Linked DNA regions of Homo sapiens. The protein of the gene in region 1 purifies or fractionates together with the protein of each later gene. This does not show direct contact. Each region holds a gene or a part of one and is shown in the gene's direction. Other genes may lie near its edges.

Evidence for each region.
Region 2: the proteins of ANO4 (region 1) and IGSF3 fractionate together in Homo sapiens (co-fractionation; one large-scale study listed by BioGRID). This does not show direct contact.
Region 3: the proteins of ANO4 (region 1) and ARSB fractionate together in Homo sapiens (co-fractionation; one large-scale study listed by BioGRID). This does not show direct contact.

What each region holds. Positions count from the first base shown.
Region 1 is NC_000012.12:100,793,237-100,796,988, forward strand, and holds the start of ANO4 (anoctamin-4), read left to right. Parts: upstream 1-1,539; 5' UTR 1,540-1,791; intron 1,792-3,752. UniProt on the Homo sapiens protein: Has calcium-dependent phospholipid scramblase activity; scrambles phosphatidylserine, phosphatidylcholine and galactosylceramide. Does not exhibit calcium-activated chloride channel (CaCC) activity.
Region 2 is NC_000001.11:116,661,165-116,664,816, reverse strand, and holds part of IGSF3 (immunoglobulin superfamily member 3 isoform 2 precursor), read left to right. Parts: intron 1-3,652.
Region 3 is NC_000005.10:78,884,187-78,887,838, reverse strand, and holds part of ARSB (arylsulfatase B isoform 1 precursor), read left to right. Parts: intron 1-2,011; coding exon 2,012-2,255; intron 2,256-2,710; coding exon of another isoform or gene 2,711-2,717; exon of another isoform or gene 2,718-3,540; intron 3,541-3,652. UniProt on the Homo sapiens protein: Removes sulfate groups from chondroitin-4-sulfate (C4S) and regulates its degradation. Involved in the regulation of cell adhesion, cell migration and invasion in colonic epithelium.

The sequences.
Region 1 (3,752 bases):
GCATTTGAGAATCAAAGTCTCCCAGGTTTTCCTTATATAATTTACAAGGACTTCCCTGGCAAACTATCCTTTCTTCTTCGTTTAAAAAATTTCACTTTATTATGTTCATCTTTGATGTGGAACATTTTTTATGGCCTTCTGCTGTGACTCATTTTGGTGCTGAGTTATCTGCTTCCTTGGAGCTCAGCCCTTCCTTTTAAGCTGTGGTATTCAGGCTCCCCAAAGTCAGCTTGCCTACGGGTAGAGATCACAGCAAAATGTGCAAATGGTATTCCAACTTCTAGGTAAAAACAGACAACTAAAATTAAAAACTCTACATCATGTAAGTCACCTGGAAAAAAAAAACAGAAAACAAAACCCGAGGGCATTTGTATATTCCTGTTAACTCTTGACTGACTAAAGGGAGTTATCTTTTCTGCAGTGATAAAAAGGTGGCCCAAGACAATCTCCCCATCTTACAAAAAGTTCTGAAGTTTTACTGTGGAGTCCAATTAAACTGGCATTTAACTTCAGAAACTACATCCCTATATAATGTAATCATCACAACCAAATACAAATTAATTAATATATATGGACAAAGTTTATAAGTTCAATATTAGAATAGGGGAAAAGGGAAGTAGGAAAAGTTTAGAGTCCTCCACGCATCCTTCATTTATCACCAAGAGATTTGCTCCTTTGCTCCTTCTGTTAGTGTAAGTCAGAATTTCTCAATTTTCAGTGTGTTTATGAATTGTTATTATTGTTTATCCCAAACACATATTTTGTCTTATAGGTGATTTAAGAGCTCTAAAAGGGACATGTTAACTATCTTCAGAAGCTCACCTCTAACAATATTTCTATACCTATATTATACAAGAAAACTAATGAAGATTGACAGTCAAATTCCTGGAGAGACCTTTGACCCTTCTCTGTCTTAAATTTTTCACTTCTGAAATAGAAAGCCGGGTCACTGGTCATCTTATCCTGCACTTTGGGCATAAAGAAGCTTAGGTCCAAAGCGCCATTACTGTACTCATGATGACCCCTTGAAGGCACATCAGTAGGGCTGTCTGGACTGTGACATGCCATCAGACATCATTTAGGGGACTTCAAGTCTGGCTTCTTGCAGAGATGCTGTGGGATGCCTCAAAAACTTCCTGCATGGCTAGTGTAACTATGGGGCTTTAGATCTTTGTTAAATACAAGCAAACATTAACAGCAGCAGTGGAGAGGATAAGTTGCCAATCCTCCCAAATTTCTTTTCCAGGCAGGGGGTTGTCCTGCCGCTCTCAGAACTGGCTGTCATCTGCTGCTCTCTTGTCACACTGACACGGCCCCCTGGCTGGGCTGATTGGTCGCTGGCAATAACTGATATGGAATACTGATGTTCTCTCCGGCAGTTCCTTCCACTCTAAAGAGACTCCTTTTCATCCCTCTTCTCGCCTTTCCTAGCCCAGCCTAGTGCCCACCCTCCCCCGACCATGCCTCCCCTGCACCTGGGGAGGGGGAGGACCAGTCCTGGGCGTGATGCTCTGAGACGGTGGTGAAATCCACCAGGCTGCTTTCACTCCGGCTCGCTCTCCGGAGAGTCCTGTTCCAGACTTCTCAGGGTTTTTACAGCACAAACAACTGCATACGGCCCGAGGGGAGGCTGAAAAGGACTTGTGTGTGGTGGTTTTATTGCCTGTCATCACTTTGCTGGCCTCCTCCCGACTGGAGCCTGGAGGTTCACAGTGGATTTCTTTCTGCCGAAGACACCAAGGCACTGAGGAAGGATCCCTTCTCCTTCTGTTGACTCTTTCTATTTTTATGGTAAGTGCTTACGTTGAATGAGCTGCTCTGTTGCTGCAGTGAACTGAACCGTTCGTTCCCCCTCTTCCCAGCTAAGCTTAGTGACCTTCCTTCTGCATTTCCTCTGTTTTCATGGATCTTGTCTGGGATGATCCAGCTTCAAAAATGCCAGGGGTCATTTGCCTGGAGTGTTTGTCTTTTTATCTTTTTTCCATAAACGTGAGCTCTTCTGCTGTGATACGAATATAAGTGCTCTGTCTTTGTCCTTGAAGCAGCAGCCGGGGAAATGTGTTCACGATGGTAAACTGCAGCAGCGTGCAGGGAATCTGTGGAGGATGACTGACAAATTTGGGCAGGATGAATCCTCAGTGTGCCAGGGGCACTCACTCAGGATCAGAAGGGCCGGGGGTGACCTGCCCACATAGCAAACTCTTCCATCTTTGTGGATAAAGATGAGCACACACGTGTGAGTTATGTTGAGTCTGCTGTGGGCAGCTGTGTTTTCTGCACCTGCCCGTGTGGGTCTGGGATGACCCTATATCTTGTGGGGTTTACAACTTGGGCAGGAACATTCTCAGCAGGAGGAATCCTGAGCTGGCAGACGGAGTAGACTGCATGACCTCATTGCTTCTTTCCCTTCTGAGTCTCAGGGTACCCAGTTCTGCAAACCATATTTTACAGGCTCTTCAGAGAGTGGTAGGGCAGTGATGACAGGAACATTTTTGAGTTGACAACATAGTTTTGTCCTCCTGCTAGGAGATAAAATACTTTGAGGTTATTAGAATGGTTAGACTTTTCTAGGAGAACATAAGCAGGTTTCTGACGAAGACTATGGATGTGGCAGATTGTTTATTCCAGGGACATTACTCTTACAATAGTGCTCTAATTTTTCACCTGGTCTCCTGAGGTTTGCTGCAAAGAGCATCACAACTTCAAGTCTATTACTGGCAGCTTCTTGACGCCCAAAGGAAACCAAGAACATTTTATTAGTTTCACTCCTGTGCGTTGCAGGAGTCTCTCTTAACAGGGATTTTTTTTTTTTTTTTTTGGTAGCAGGTGTGTCGAACTATTTTGGTCAAAGCATCATTCCAAAGAATAGCTTCGCAGTTGTAATTCTATTTAGTTATTTTCAAGTCTTGGACCGGAGGTGGGTTATCTTATTTGTGTAGGTTTTTCCATTCTGGTCCATTTCACTCTAGAGAGGGTTCTTGCCAAATGTAATTCAGTCTCTGATTCATAAGGTACTGAACTAATACAATGTGATTTTTTGTGATAAGTGAGGGGAGAGAATGTGGGGTGAAATTTCCAGTCTCTCCTCCTGCTCTTTGGGAGTTTGGAATGTAAAGTTCCCTAACTGCTTGCTCATTTTCACTACTTTTATGTCCCCTGTTCATGTGGATTTTTCTTGAAATAGTGGTGATGACATCAGACATATGCCTTTACCTTCTTCTCTGGGTCCAAAGTAGATGCGTTTGTTGTTGTTCTGTTTTTGTTTGTTTTTTATTTCAGTGAAGGGTTCCTTGCATTTGTAAAAGCATACGTTTAAATAAAAAACAAGAATTTGTAGATGTTTACATGTTAGCCCTGTTCAAGAGTAAAACCAGCACAGAGGTTAACAGCAAAAAAAAAAAAAATTCAAAACAATTTTTAAAATATTATCAGCATTGCTTGGCTTAGCTGTTCTAATATCCACTCTTCCCTACACTCGATTGTGGTTCGCGGCAATACTGTATTGTAATTTGACTGTCAGACTGCTCTGCTTCCTCTTTAATTCTTTAATGTTTAGCTGTTTACTTTCATCCTTAATGGTGTGTTCTTACTTTGCTTAATCTTTTTTTCTCTTTTTCTAATTGAAAGGATGTTATATAGTGCCTGGTAACTCAACTGAGGATACTCATTAAGATGGAAAGTGTTAGAATCAGCTTGGGTGTCATGGAAATAGACTCAGTATTTCTCACTGCAGGCAATTTCAGAATCATTTA
Region 2 (3,652 bases), on another chromosome or scaffold:
CAGTGCCCTACCACCCAACGCATGCAGACACCCTGCTGGTAGTTTAGTTAGTCTTCTGTTCAGCTGTGGGCTGGGATACAGGCAGTGTCTCCATGTCACCTGTATGCTCAGGCAGAGTCAAGAAGGCAGGGAGCCCTTCATTTGCCAGTCTCTTCATATTGGATCTGTATTTGTTGTACTGTATGTGTCATTCGCTTAGTGTCTGGGTTTAAATCAGCAATTAGTGATTCATGTGGATTCAACAGGACACAAACAAGGAAAGCCCTTGGGGAGGTTTGGATGTGGGGTGGGGTGTGTGGCTAAGGCGGGAAAGAGGGCTGAGTGGCAGGGTGGGGCCCAGGGCAGGAGAAGTAACCATCAATGGGAAAACAAGGCAATGTGACATTTGTGCCTTTTGTTTCTTCTGGCTGCTCAAGTAATGTAAGGCTGCATGCTGGTCCCCCTGCTGTTCGCTCTCTGGGCCACTCTGTGGAGTGGAGCTCGGGCCCTGGCACCTGGCAGGTGCTGTCATTTTCCCTCCACCCTCATCTTCATGTGTAAACAGGTGCCATGGAGGAAAATGAGCATCAAGGTGGCTTTAAAGGGGCACAGTGGCAGACATCCAGATGCAGGCTGAAGTGGGAAGGTTTGGAACTGTAGGCATGCATGTGGATCTCTGCCTGATTTGGAGCCCCACTGGTGGAACCTCATCTTTCTCTTCACCTGATGGCTCTCAGTATGGCAGGAAGGAGGCCTGGCTACTACTTTACTAATCTGGGAGAGGTAGAAGGCGTTTGGGGAGGGAGCAAAACCCATGTTGGGGTCTTATTTCCTGCTTGTCTTCTGATGTGGTCTGGTTCATGTGTCAGCATTCTTGCTGCATAATGTGAATTAATGTGTAGTATGAATTTAAAACAGCGAAGAATCCCAAGGTTTTAAGCCCATATAGGTCACATGCCTGGAATAAAATTTTGTTTAAAAAAGTTGGATAAGGCTAAGTGCTCTGAAAGTGAGACCGATGCAGGTACCAGCCTCTAGAAATGGCAATTTTAGTTAGAAAACCCTGGACAGTATGTGAGGGGTATACAGGGTAAATCTCGGAGACGCTTTCATCTCCCTCAACATGACAGACCTGTGCTTTTCTGCACCTGTCCTTTGCCAGTGTCTGGGATTGGAATCAGATTCCTCTTTTCTGTCTGTTGGGATACTGATTCCTGCTTATGTCTTTGTCCTACCCTTTGTCTTTGTACCTACCCCCTTGACCTCTGTGTGTTGTTTCCTTCTGTCCTAACCCTAGGTGCCTCACCCAATAAGGGTTGTGGTGGCAGTGCATGGCTCTGCCACCACAACCCTTGGTTCCAATTACAAAGCCATTTAAGCCTGGCTCTGGTTGAACCATGAGGGTAGTAAAGTCTCTATTTGAGGATAGATGTGGCCAGAGGGGCAGAAGATTAGAGAGAGAATAGAGGCTGGTACAGTGGTAGGAAGGGAAGGGTGACTGGAAAAGTGCCTCTGTCTGGGAGCAGCCTGCATGAGTGACAGTGACATGGGAAGATGACAGCAATGTGGGAAAGAGAGCATAGGATTTGTGTCTGTAAGAACAGGAAGGAAATTCTCAGGAAAGATGAATATAAGCTTTAGACACATACAGCACATTTTGATTTTGTGTAGCCAGGAAGAGTTATATACCTCCCAGACCAGTGCTGATGTTGCAAACAAGATTAAATAGCTTTAAAAGTGTTAGCAATGAAAAATGTAGGAGATTGGGACATCTGAGAACCTGTAGATGGCAAATGATCATTTGTGTTCTGCTCCAGAGGGAGAGAAGTTCATTTGTAGAGTTTGGGAAGTCTCTTCTTTGAATACGGTAAGGCTGAGGAAGCCATCTCTTACTTCCCAGTTAGTTAGAAAAGGCTTCTGAAAGGGATTGAAAGAAACTTTGAAGTACTATGGGTGTGACCTCAGAGGCAGGGCTGGAGTGATCAAAGGCAGAGGAGAAAGAGGAGGCAGAGAAAAGTGAGATGGTTTGGAGCAATCAGGAGAAGGGTTCTGAAAGAAGGGGATGAGGATTGTGATTTATGGATGAACAAACACCACTGTCCTAATAGTTGTCCCAGAGGTAGTGCACTTCCCTTTCCTGGGGACCATTTGACAAGGGTGCAGGAGAAGGAAATTCTTGTCAGGAGGACTTGGCCTACTAGGATGCCTTTCAGCTGTGAGAATCATTGAGCTACCTCCAGGTACCCAGGGCTGTGTTAAGATGTTGCCATCTTCTACGGTTTTCATGGCAGCAAGACTGCTGGTACTTCCATAATGGCAGTAATACCAGCTCTCCTAACTCTAGCCCTTACTGTGACCCAACTATATCAATCAGTCTTCAAAACAACCCTGTAAGATAGATACCTTGCATTATCACATTTTTATAGATGGGGAGATTGAAGCTTAGGGAGGTTAAGTAACTTGCCTAAGCTGGGCATGGTGGCTCATGCTTGTAACCGCAGCACTTTGGGAGGCTGAGGCGGGTGGATCACTTGAGGTCAGGAGTTTGAGACCAGCCTGGCCAACATGGTGAAACACCGTCTGTACTAAAAATACAAAAATTAGCCGAGCATGGTGGCACATTCCTGTAATCCCAGCTACTCGGGAGGCTGAGGCAGGAGAATCGCTTGAACCCAGGAGGCAGAGGTTGCAGTGAGCCGAGATCGCGCCGTTGCACTCCAGCCTGGGCAATGAGCAAAACTCTGTCTCAAAAAAAAAAAAAGAGTCACTTGCCTAAGATAGATTGCTGACAGTGTTAGGGCTCCAAGCTCCTGCTGTCTTGCTCCATGTGCATGCTCTCTATTCCCAAGATGACTTCATGGTCCAAGATGACTCTTCTAGCCGCAGCCATCAGGAAGGAAGAAAAGGCTAGTGAAGGGTAGGACCTCTTAATGTAAGGATACTTCCTGGAAGTTATATACATCACTTCCACTAACATTCTCATTGGCTAGAACCTAGTCATGTGACCATATTTAGCTGCAAAGAAGGCTGGAAAATATGCTTATCCTGAGGGTCCATGTGTCCTGAGAAAAACTTGGGATTCTATGACTGTAGGGAAAGGAGAGAACAGATTTTGGGGGACAGCTGCCCATCTCTGCCATAGTCACAAAGCTAAAAAGTGGCAGAGTAGGGTTTTGAAGCCAGGACCATTTGGTTCCAAATCCTGTGTTCTTACATCTAATAAGCTATTCCGTTTGACTCTGAAGCCGAGCCTCTGGCTTCTAAGAAGGCTTGTTAGGAAGGCATGAGTTAGATGAACCAACGTTTGTTTCATAGGAAGCAACCTAAATCAGCATATAATTAAACACTACATTTTGTGGTTTTATCAGTGAGTATTAAAGTGTTTATAGAGTGCTTATGTGCCAGTCACTGTGCTAAACACTTTACATAGCATGACCTTCTGTATAAAATTCTTGAAGACCATCTGTCATGTTCATTACTGTAGTCCCAGAACTCAGCCTTGTGCCATGCAAAGTAAGCAGGTGTTCAGTTATTTTATTTTTTTTGAGATGGAGTCTCACACTGTTGCTCAGGCTGGAGTGCAGTGGCACGATCTTGGCTCACCGTAACCTCCGCCTGCTGGGTTCACGCGATTCTCCTGCCTCAGCCTCCCGAGTAGCTGGGATTACAGGCA
Region 3 (3,652 bases), on another chromosome or scaffold:
AAGTTTATGTGGCCTACATGTGTGAGCCCACTCTATACTAGGGATAGCAGGAGTGTGGTGCTCTAGGGGCAGAGGCCTGGGGTGTCACACAGACCTTGTTGGAATCCTAGCATTGCCATCTATTCACTGTTTGGCTTTTTCAAACTTCCTTTTAAAAAACGTGACAAAATGGTTATAATACTAAACTATTTGGGTTGTTGTAAATTTTAAGAACAACAGCAGTTACTACCATGTATTGAGCACTTAGGTTGTGTCAGGTACCCTGCCAAGAAAAGATCATAAGCAATGTCACTTCATTTCCATCATAATACATGAAGTAGTGCTATGGTTTGGATGTGGTTTGTTTCCACCAAAGCTCATGTGGAAGTCTAATTGCCACTGCATCTTGGGAGGTGGGGCCCAGTAGGAAGTGTTTGGGTCATGGGGGCGGGTTCCTCATGAATAGATCAATGCTGTCTCCCAGGATCGAGTTCTCAATCTCAAGGGAATGGATTAGTCGCCATGAGAGTGGGTTGTTATAAAGTGAGGCTCTTCCTGCTCTTTGGTCCCTCTTTACCTGCACCTGCCTCTCCTTCCACTTCTCTGCCATGTTATGATGCAGCACAAAAGCCCTCACCAGCAACTGATGCCAGTGCCTAGCGCTTGGACTTATCAGTCATCAGAATTGTGAGCCAAATAAACCTGTTTTCTTTATAAATTACCTAGTCTCAGTATTCTGTTATAGCAACACAAAATGGACTAAATCAATTAGTGATTGTTATTTCCACATGAAGACGAGGAAACTGAGGTGGTATATCACCCCTGGCCACACAGCTAGTGAGTGTCTGGCCTCAGGCTTCTATTCCAGGTCTGCCAACCCCAGATTCTGTGAGAGATAATGCAAAATCAGAGTCACTCCTAGTGCAGTCAGTGCTTAACAAGTGTTCATTCTCTTTCCTCCCAGATGCATCTTGTAGCTTTGATAGATCTCTGATTTCTTAATAAATTTTTATATGTAACATTCTATACAGCAGGTGGTCTGTCATACTGCCCTCATGTGGCTCATTTGGGTAATAGTGGGTTTTTTTTTTAAAGTTTAATGCAAAATATGTGTTATTTAAAATGTGTCTCTAAAGTCACCTAAATCTGTGGATACTTTGGGAGTTTGTATGATTCTATAACCCCAGTATGTAAGAAATGGCACTTTTTCTTTTCTACTGCCCACTTTAATGTCTTAACTCTGAGCCCTCATTTGGCTGGGAAGATACTTAACTTCAGTTACTCTAGTAGCTTCTACCCTGTCTTTGCCAAGATCTCCCATTCCTTCTGTTGTCTTGGAAGAGAAACCTTCTCTTCCCTGGTATTGTGCATAATGAAACTTTATTTCACCATCCTGTCAAGAGGGGAAAAATTTTTTTCACAATTATATTTTTCCATCTAATGTTCTGTTTACAGAGACATTTATCAACCACTGGAGAAATACTCAGCTTTCACACTTAAGAAAGAGATATTATTGCCAGAGTGTAGAGTGTTAATTCATTTTCCAGTTTAAATTGTAGAATTTTTTTTCCAAGAGGAAAAGAAAAAGGTCAGTTTTTGTCTCCACCTATAAGGAGCATTAAGTCACTAAGTGAAATTCCCTTAGTTTTCTCTTCATGCATGGAGAGGGTCCCAGCTTCCATGGACTCATTCTCCCATGCTATACAAAGTTACACAGGTGTATTTAAAGTTTAGTGGATTGTTTAGCTTAGGGATCTCCAAAGCGCATATCATCGAGGGACTGCCTTGTTTTCCAGTGGCTCTCTCCATGGAGGATTTAAAGGTAGATATGTATCACACTGGGCCTTACTTATGTCTGAATAATGAAAGGCTATGTCAATGGGAAAAGGGAATTTAGGGTGGGAAAAGGCAAGGAATTTTCTTTTTTTTTATTATTTAAGCACCATTTAGTAACAATGTACATACAGTCTCTGTTCTTAAATGTATTTAAGAGTTAACATCATCCTCATGCCAAGACCTTACTGTGTTTCAGATAACGGAGGGCAGACTTTGGCAGGGGGTAATAACTGGCCCCTTCGAGGAAGAAAATGGAGCCTGTGGGAAGGAGGCGTCCGAGGGGTGGGCTTTGTGGCAAGCCCCTTGCTGAAGCAGAAGGGCGTGAAGAACCGGGAGCTCATCCACATCTCTGACTGGCTGCCAACACTCGTGAAGCTGGCCAGGGGACACACCAATGGCACAAAGCCTCTGGATGGCTTCGACGTGTGGAAAACCATCAGGTACCTACACCCTGCCCTTTTTCCTCCCAGGACAGAAACTCCAAGAGCAGCCTGACTCCATTGAGCAAGAATGATAGCTTTTGTGTTAAAATGATAGTTCAGCTTACAAATACATGATTTTTAAGAAAAATAAGTGCCTTTAGAGACATTGTAAGTATATATATTTTTAAATTATAAATTTGAGATTGTGGGCCTGTGTTTTACGTGAAGAACAAGATTGTCCTCAGCCCATCGCCCTCCATGGAAGGTCTTTGAAGCTGCGACGTTTTGCTTAGAAGTAGGCTAGGGTATTGTTAGCTTCCTGCAGGGGGTCAGGGAACTAGTCCTGTTGTCTGCTGGAAGAATGGAGGACAAAACAGCAGGGAAAAAGCTGGAATAGGAACTAGGGATATGTTTATTTCCATTTATTAGCAAGTATCTAACAAGCACCTACTATGTGCCATACCTTCTTCTAGATGCTGAGAAATTAGGAATGAACAAGTCAGTCAAGATCCTGCCTCTCAGGAAGCTGTATTCTAGTTGGGGGAGAAAGATGTTGGACAAATGAACACACAGATGAGCAAGATGACTGCCAGTTGTGATAAGTGCCAGGAAGGCAAAAAAGTATGTTGTGATAGATAGAGCTGGCTGATGTGAAGAAGATACATCAGGGAACAGGACCCAGACTCAGATTTGGAAATCGTGATGGTCTTTTTCCTGTTTAACCCCCACAGTGTAGAGCAATAGCCCCCAAGGTTGGGAGGCACATGCCTTAGAGGTTGCAAGATGTTCCCTTGGAGTACAGGAAGAAAATTTCAATCTTGTATTTGTATTAATATCTAATTTCATCTCATCCTTTTTAAAGTATATGTTTTTTAAGACACATAATATATTAGTAGACTTGTACATAAATCTAATTTATAAATAAATATGCATATATTGGAGGTATTATTTTTACGGGTGGAATGACCTAGTGCAATGGTTTTCAACCTCTGTTTGGTGTTACAGCTCTGTTTGGGGTTAGCAGCTGATTGACTGTCCCTTAGTGGCCAGGGGGAGAGGACTTCCTCAGGCCATCTCTTCATCCCACTCCAGGTATCCCAGCTCAAGAATAGCAGGTTTCAGGTCTCTAGTTATAGGAAATACACAATGGAGTATTTAGGAGCAAAAAGCCATGATATATTTAACATACCCTCAAATGGTTCAGAAAAAAATTGTGTGTGTGTGTGTGTGTGTATGTATGTACATGTGCACAGAGAGAATTCAAATGGACTGCAAAATTAAATAAAAGAATATAGGTAAGGTGCATAAGTATTCTTTTGTTATGTCTTATTTTTGCAACTTTTTGTAAATTTGAAATTATTTCCAAATAAAAGTGTTTTAAAAATAGGAAGGTCTGACAGCACTGCACCCACATT